2 linked regions of the Homo sapiens genome follow. The protein of the gene in region 1 purifies or fractionates together with the protein of each later gene. This does not show direct contact. Each region holds a gene or a part of one and is shown on either strand. Other genes may lie near its edges.

The links. Proteins that work in one complex are often made in the same cells at the same time.
Region 2: the proteins of ITPK1 (region 1) and DNAAF5 fractionate together in Homo sapiens (co-fractionation; one large-scale study listed by BioGRID). This does not show direct contact.

What each region holds. Positions count from the first base shown.
Region 1 is NC_000014.9:92,937,926-92,941,425, forward strand, and holds part of ITPK1 (inositol-tetrakisphosphate 1-kinase), read right to left. Parts: 3' UTR 602-3,500; coding exon of another isoform or gene 558-601; 3' UTR 1-557. UniProt on the Homo sapiens protein: Kinase that can phosphorylate various inositol polyphosphate such as Ins(3,4,5,6)P4 or Ins(1,3,4)P3. Phosphorylates Ins(3,4,5,6)P4 at position 1 to form Ins(1,3,4,5,6)P5.
Region 2 is NC_000007.14:729,658-733,382, forward strand, and holds part of DNAAF5 (dynein axonemal assembly factor 5), read left to right. Parts: intron 1-5; coding exon 6-190; intron 191-3,725. UniProt on the Homo sapiens protein: Cytoplasmic protein involved in the delivery of the dynein machinery to the motile cilium.

The DNA of each region.
Region 1 (3,500 bases):
CCGGGGATCCCACCGGGTGAATGATCAGAGTTTGTTTGTTTGTTTGTTTGTTTTTTGAGGAGTCTTGCTCTGTTGCCAGGCTGGAGTGCAGTGGTGCGATCTTGGCTCACTGCAACCTACGCCTCCCGAGTTCAAGCAATTCTCCTGCCTCAGCCTCCCAAGTAGCTGGGACTACAGGCGCCCACCACCATGTCCAGCTAATTTTTGTATTTTTAGTAGAGATGGGGTTTCACCATGTTGGCCAGGATGGTGTCGATCTCTTGACCTTGTGATCCACCTGCCTCAGCCTCCCTAAGTGCTGGGATGACAGGCGTGAGCCGCCATGCCCGGCCAGAGTTTCTAGGGAATAGAAGAGAGGGCAGATACAGACCCCAGGGACATTAGTGAAGCCATTCAGCAGTTGTGGCCAGTGGCCAATGTGAGTGCCCAAGAGCCAAGAACTGGTCTTCCAGGCTAGAAGGACAAACGACAGGCTGGCTCCCTTGGTCTTGGGGTGGCTGTCTGGCAGGCAACAGCTGCTTTGCTCAGTTGGCTCAAACATGTGACAGCTTCCTACTTCAGTCGGTCTTCCAGCCTTCTATAAAGCACACTTGGCAGTCCCCTGGGTACAGAGAGGAATGTTTTTCCCAGGTTGCTTTCTCCTTTATTGACAGGCATGAGACACAGGCAGGCCCAGGCACAGGAAGCCCCATGGAACCTGCCAGGTTGCAGCTGGGTCCAATCCCGCCGGCCATGCTGGGTGACTGCAGGCCCAGCCCACCCACCACGTGTGGACCCAGACACCTCCATGACACCAAGGGCAAAGCACCAGTTCCAGGGTGGCCTCCCCTTGGCTCTTGGGGTGGGGACACCCAGCAGCTGGCACTCAGTTGGGGGGTTATGTTTGCAGAATCACATCACCATATAATCAAAGCACTGTCAGGCAGAACTTGACCCACGGCCTCAGCCCCAGGGTGCTCAATGCAGACTGTGCAGGTGACCCTCTGAAACTACCCAAGGACTCAGCCAAAGTGTGGTCTGGCCCCTTGCTCCTGGAGCCCTTCAGCACATCCAGGGACCACCATCAAGACAGGCACTGCAGGGCGCAGAGCCAACGTGCTGACCAACTCAGAAGCAGAAGCTTAGGAACCAGAGCCCCAAGCCACCCCGATGCTGGCGGGGCCAACTCCAGGCGCCGTGCCTGCACAGCACCACACAACAACCTTTGCTAAGTGGGTCCCTTCCTTGGACCCAGACACTCTCAGTGACTCTGCTCAGGAGGCAGCGCCACCATGCTCTGGAGAAGAGGAGGCCGCCAGAGCCCGGGTGGTTTTAGTGGGTCTTTCCCTGAGGCAGAAACTCCAAGGCCAGGGACAATGTGACCGAAGGGGAGACAACTCTATGGACACTGTCCAGGGATCAAAGATGGTCAGCGTGCACCCTTAGGGTACGTTTAGCGAGCTGGGCTCCATCTCTGCCGCTCCCAGGTGCGGGTCCCGCGTCGCTGTCCAGGCCCCTCATTGCTGACACTCCCCTGGCTTCACTGGGCAGAGTCCACCGGCCCCCCAGCCCTGGGTGTGGCTGGCCCCTCCCTACCTCCCATGTAGCTCCCAGGCCTTTACGAAGCAAATCTCCATCCTCCATCTCCACTCTTGGAAAATGCAGCTGCCCTGCACACCCACAGCCCCGCCCCCGCCCCACCACGGAGGCCTATGGACGCCACCACGACACCACATGGCAGTTACTCGGTATCTGGGCCCTGGACGCGCAAGACCCCGGAGGCCACAAACGGTACAGGAACACAGCCAGGAGTCACGCTGCACACCCCCACCCGTACCTGAGGCAGACTGGGATTGAAATTTTATTTTTAAAAGGTAAAGCTGTTTTATTAAACGTCTTTTAAGGACTGGGAGTATGACATAACAAACTTGAGCAACATGTGTAAACACGTGTGAAATGCGGTTTGATTTCAGTAGTTTATTTTGGAGACAAAGCAGTGCAAGAGGCCAGCCACGCTTTCCTGTTCCCCAGGGCTCAGGGTCAGAACTAGGAAAGGTGACGTACAGACATTAATCGGGGTTCAAAACTCAAGTCGTGTAAACGTGGTTAGTTGTTGGGTCCTCAGTTTCCAAAAAAGCCGGGCAGTTCTGATGGCCTCTGCCCCTCGCCCAAGCCCTGTGCCTCCCTCCTCAAAGTGGGCATCCTGCAGCCCAGCTGAGCCAGGCCGAAGGACCTCCATGCACTGGCTCGGGGGCCTCTCTCGGGACACTCAGCACTTTCTCTAGCGTCCTCCATCTCACTGGGCAGAGGACAGCCCGGAAGCCTTTTTCACTTTTTCAAAGTAAACTGCTATCTTAAGACACAAAAACATACTTGTGGGGGCTGATGCCTCTCACCCAGCACCCCACATCTTCCAGGACTGCAGAGGCTTCTCCCCAACCCTTTTCTCTGCAGAGGGGGCTGCCTGGATCAGGGGTCAGACGGCAGAGCCAGTGCTTTGCTGCCAAGGTGATGGGGTGAGTCTGAGGTGTGCAGAAGCGATGGGGGGCGGGTGGCTCCCTGGCACCTGCTGGCTCAGTGCTTGGGGCTTGCAATGAGAGGTGGACCAGGCCTGCTGGGTGAGGAGGGACCCAGCAGGTGTGAAAAGGAGTGAACCCACTGGGAAGAGGGCCCCGATCTCCATGGTGTCATGCCGAGGCTCCCGCGCCTATCCTCACCTAGGTGACTTTATGGAAAGGCAGGCTGCATCCCAGGGGTTAGGGCACAAAGCCAGCCCTGTGGTGCTCTCTGATCTCAAATGTCCACTAGAGACAAGGGGGTGGAGGCCCAAAGACCTGGAATGATTTGCCCAAATCACAGCACAAATCCTCAGCACAGGCGCCATCGGCTCGGGCCTCCAGCCAGGCAGCCTCCTTCCCGGGCTCCAGGGAGCAGCAGTGCTGGCTTAGGGGAAGGAGACCGCTGTGCAGGGCTAAATGGGACGTGTGTTGGGGGGCCCAGAGGACGCCCAGCTTCCTTTCCTTCCCTTTAGTGAGGGAGCACAGCCCAGACCCCAGCGCGGAACTCCCCTGAGGGGTCTGTGGCCTCCTCTGGCTGTGGGGAGGGAGGGGTTAGCTGCACACCAGGCAGGGTGGGGGCTAACAAAGCCTTGGTGGAGACCAGTAGGAGGAAAAACAAGGAAGGGGCAGGTCAGGGAGTGGGGAGTCAGGCAGAAGGGAAGCCACTCTCACATGCACCGATCAGCCTCCCACAGCCCGACATGGGCAGGCTTCCCCCAAGGGTCCCGGTCCACAGTGGCCATGGAGACCAACAGACAGGGATGTGCACAGACACTGGCATGGCAGCCATACGCACACCCCTCACCTCCCATCCAGACCTAGTGTTGCAAACACAAGCGTGTGTAAACTCAGTTAGGAGGTCTGCACAGTAGAGAGCAGGCGGACGGCCCCACTCCCCAACGGTGGACCACCTGGTACTCTCTTCCATCCCCCACTACCCCTCATTTAGATCATGACATCAGA
Region 2 (3,725 bases), on another chromosome or scaffold:
CTCAGACCACTTCCACATGCAGTCGGAGTCTCTGATCGGGCCCCTGATGCAGACCATCTCCCACCAGCACTGGAAGGTCCGTGTGGCCGCCATTGAAGCCACAGGCGCAGTGATCCATTTTGGCAACGGGAAGTCCGTGGACGACGTGCTTTCCCATTTTGCTCAGCGACTGTTTGATGACGTCCCGCAGGTAACTGGTGTTTCTCCTGGACAGTCTGTTCCTCTCTCCAACACAGGCGGGCTGACGTGCTGTTTTTAACTAACTCACTTGTTCTTTTTTCAGAGTGCTGTATGCACCAAATGTCCTTTCATTATTCCTAGTCACAGGACGTTCCTGTTCACATCTTGGAAAAACTAGAAGAGAGCTGAACTGTTTTAATGTTTGATGTTATGAATTCCAAGGATGTTAGAAAGGATGACTTGTGTAGTTATTGTCTCTTAGGCACAGTGTGCACTTCAGCAGTTGCAGAAGGTTCCTTAGTGCTCCCATCCATCAAGACGCACTTTCCCGAAAAGCCACCATGGTTGGTGGACCTGGACTGGGAGAAGAGTGGAGTCGGGGTTGGTTTGTTGGGGATAATTATGTCGTTGGGCTTTGGAACCCACCAAGAGACGGGCAGGCAGGCAGGCAGGAGTCCTACAGATGGGGCTGAGTGTTGGCTTTACTGCTGGCAGAATCTGGCCTGGAGGGCATGTCTTGGATCTGAGGCCCCAGTGACTTGCTAAAATGCTACACACTGTGGCCACCGGGGAAGCTGAGTGACCTCTGATCTTTCTGTCTCTGAGTTACCTGTCATCGTAGTCAGACATGTGATCTTTTGTGTCTGGCCTCTTCACTGTGCATGGTTCCAGGTTTCAGCCTTGAAGAGGTAGGTTTCCTGATGAGAAATGGCTTGAAGGTGGTGAGTTGAAGAGTCACTCGGGGTATTCTGGGGCCAGGATGGAAGCCCTGACTCGCTCCCTCGTCTGTGCTGCTGGGGTCCACCCGTAGGGCCGGCTCCAGGTGTGACATAGCACCTGCTCAGGACACCCCTGCTTTGCCTCCATGGCCAGGCTTCATTCTCCGGCTCTCTCCCTCCAGCAGCAGAGTGGCTGCCTAGGGGCTGTGCGCAGAGACACAGGGGGACCCTTTCCCACCAGGAGCCTTTGTTCACCCCCCTTGGTCTCATCAGGCCAGCGGAAGTTGAGTCACCATGTACGCTGGCCGGCCCCTCCTGGAGCTGGCGTGGGTTCGGCACCAGGCAGCACAGAGGGCCCCTGAGGACATCAGGCTCTGCCCAGTGGGGAGAAAGTGGGCAGAGTGCGGGGTCAGTGTCCATGCTGCCCGGCACTTGCAGCAGGCACTTCTGGCACTGGCTAAATATTTGGGCTGCGGAGGGCAGTTCAAGGGGCCAGGGCAAGAACAGAGCCCAGCAAGAAGTGCAGGCGGCCGGCTGGTTTTTCTCTCCCACCTTCCTTAAGCCTGAGGCAGAGCATGGCCCACAAGGAAAGTGGAGTCTGTGTCATGGGCCAAGTCTTACTCCTCAAAACAGTGTGATGACTCTGTATGGAGAGCTCTGTGTGAATACTGAAGCTCCATAGCTGATAGCTGTCGGTGTAAGCCTACTGTCACTGTCTAAAAATAACCATCACTGTCTAAAAATACCGTCACTGTCTAAAAATACCATCACTGTATCGATAGCTGTCTGTAAATACTGGAACTCTGTGGAGCACGCTCTGTAAATACTGGAACTCTATTGCTAGCTGTAAACGGTGTAACTCAGTATAACTATACCGTAACTCTAAAAATACCATAACTATGTGTCGACAGCTGCCTATAAATGCTATAACTGTATTGGTAGCTATGTATAAGCAGCCTACTCTGTATCAATAGCTGTCTGTTAGAAAGCTGACATCACATTGTTGATCTAAAGCAAGCTTGTCCAACCTGCGGCCCGTGGGCCACATGCAGCCCGGGACGGCTTTGAATGCTGCCCAACACCAATTCATAAACTTTCTTAAAATGTTACGAGATTGTTTTTGTGATTTTTTTTTTTCTTTTAGCTCGTCAGCTATCATTAGTGTTAGTGTTATTTTATGTGTGGCCCAAGACAATTCTTCCAGCATGGCCCGTTTCTTCCCAATGGGGTTTGCGTCCTATTAGAGACCCTGCACGGCCCTTCACGTGAGTTTCGTGTGGAGTCACGGTGCTGCCCCTTTTACTCTGATCAGCCCTGCGACCCCGTCCTGGAGCTCCATGTGGGCTCCTTGCAGACACCTCCACCCCCTCAACAACCCAGGGACTGGTGCCCTGGGACCCCATCCTCTCTGCACAGAAGGTCCTGACTGCCTTCTGACTCGTAGGAAACCTTCCAGCAGCCTGCTAGACTCGGCTTAAATCACTGAACTTCACTGGAAGGGCCTGGAAATAACTTCATCTCCTCCTTACAAGGCTCAGAGGCCTCAGAGCTCACTCAGGTAGCACAGCCAGGTGAGCCTCAGAGCAAGGTCAGGACACAGGCGGTCTAGCCGCCCTGGAGCCTTAGGCCCCGGGATGGTGTCTGAAGTTGTGGAAAGGGGGTGTCCCAGTGCGGCAGGGGCTAATGCATCTCCCCACGCTCACATGACTGCAGCTCCGAGCCCAGGACACTGACCACACCCAGAACCCCGGCGAGGCAGGCAGGACGGACGTATGGCCGTGCAGTTGTGAAGCAGGCCTTGAACAAACTGCCCTGTGCCGCCCTCAGGTGGGTGACTCATGGACTTCGCCCTGCAGGGGTGCCCTGGTTGTCGCCAGGCCTGCAGTCGGCAGCTGCTCAGCTTTGCTGCAGTTTTCCTGCTCGATGTGTGCTGCTGGTGAGGCCACCAGGCCTGTTCTTGTCAAGAGAGACCTTCCGGGAGCAACAGATGTTACAGGAGAGACTGGGGATGCATGGACAGCTTTTCAGAGATGAGTGTTTGTCACGTTCCTGCCAAGTACCTGTTTGCCATTTGTATGCCTTCTTTTGAGAAATGTCTATTCAGATCTGTCCATTTTTAAATCGCGTTATTAGATTTTTTTCTATTGAGTTTGAGCTCCTTATGGATTCTGGTTGTCAGTCCCTTGTCAGATGGGTATTTGTGCAGCTGTTTGCTCCCATCCTGTGGGTTGTCTCCTCACTATTGATTGTTTTATTTGCTGTGCAGAAGCTTTTTAACTTGATGTGATCCCATTTGCCCAGGCCATGTCCCAGAGAGTTTCCCCAATGTTTTCTTTTAGTGGTTTCATAGTTTGAGGTCTTAGATTGAGGTCTTTAATCTATTTTGATTTGATTTTTGTACATGGTGAGAGATAGGGGTCCAGTTTCATTTTTCTGCATATGGAGTTCCAGTTTTCCCAGCACCATTTATTGAAGAAACTGTCCTCTCCCCAAGATATGTCCTTGGCACCTTTGTCAAAATAAGTTCACTGTAAATGTATGGATTTAATTTCTGGCTTCTCTATTCTGTTCCATTGGTCTGTGTGTCTGTTTTTATGCCAGTGCCAAGCTGTTCTGGTCGCTGTAGCTCTGTAGTATAAATTGAAGTCAGGTAATGTGATCCCTCCAGTTTTTTGTTTGTTTTTGTCTTGTTTTGTTTTTTGCTCAGGATGGCTTTGGCTATTCAACGTCTTTCGAGGTTCCATATAAATTTAGGATTATTTTTTCTATTTCTGTGAAGAATGTCATTGGTATTTTGATAGGGATTGCGTTGAGTCTGTAAATTGC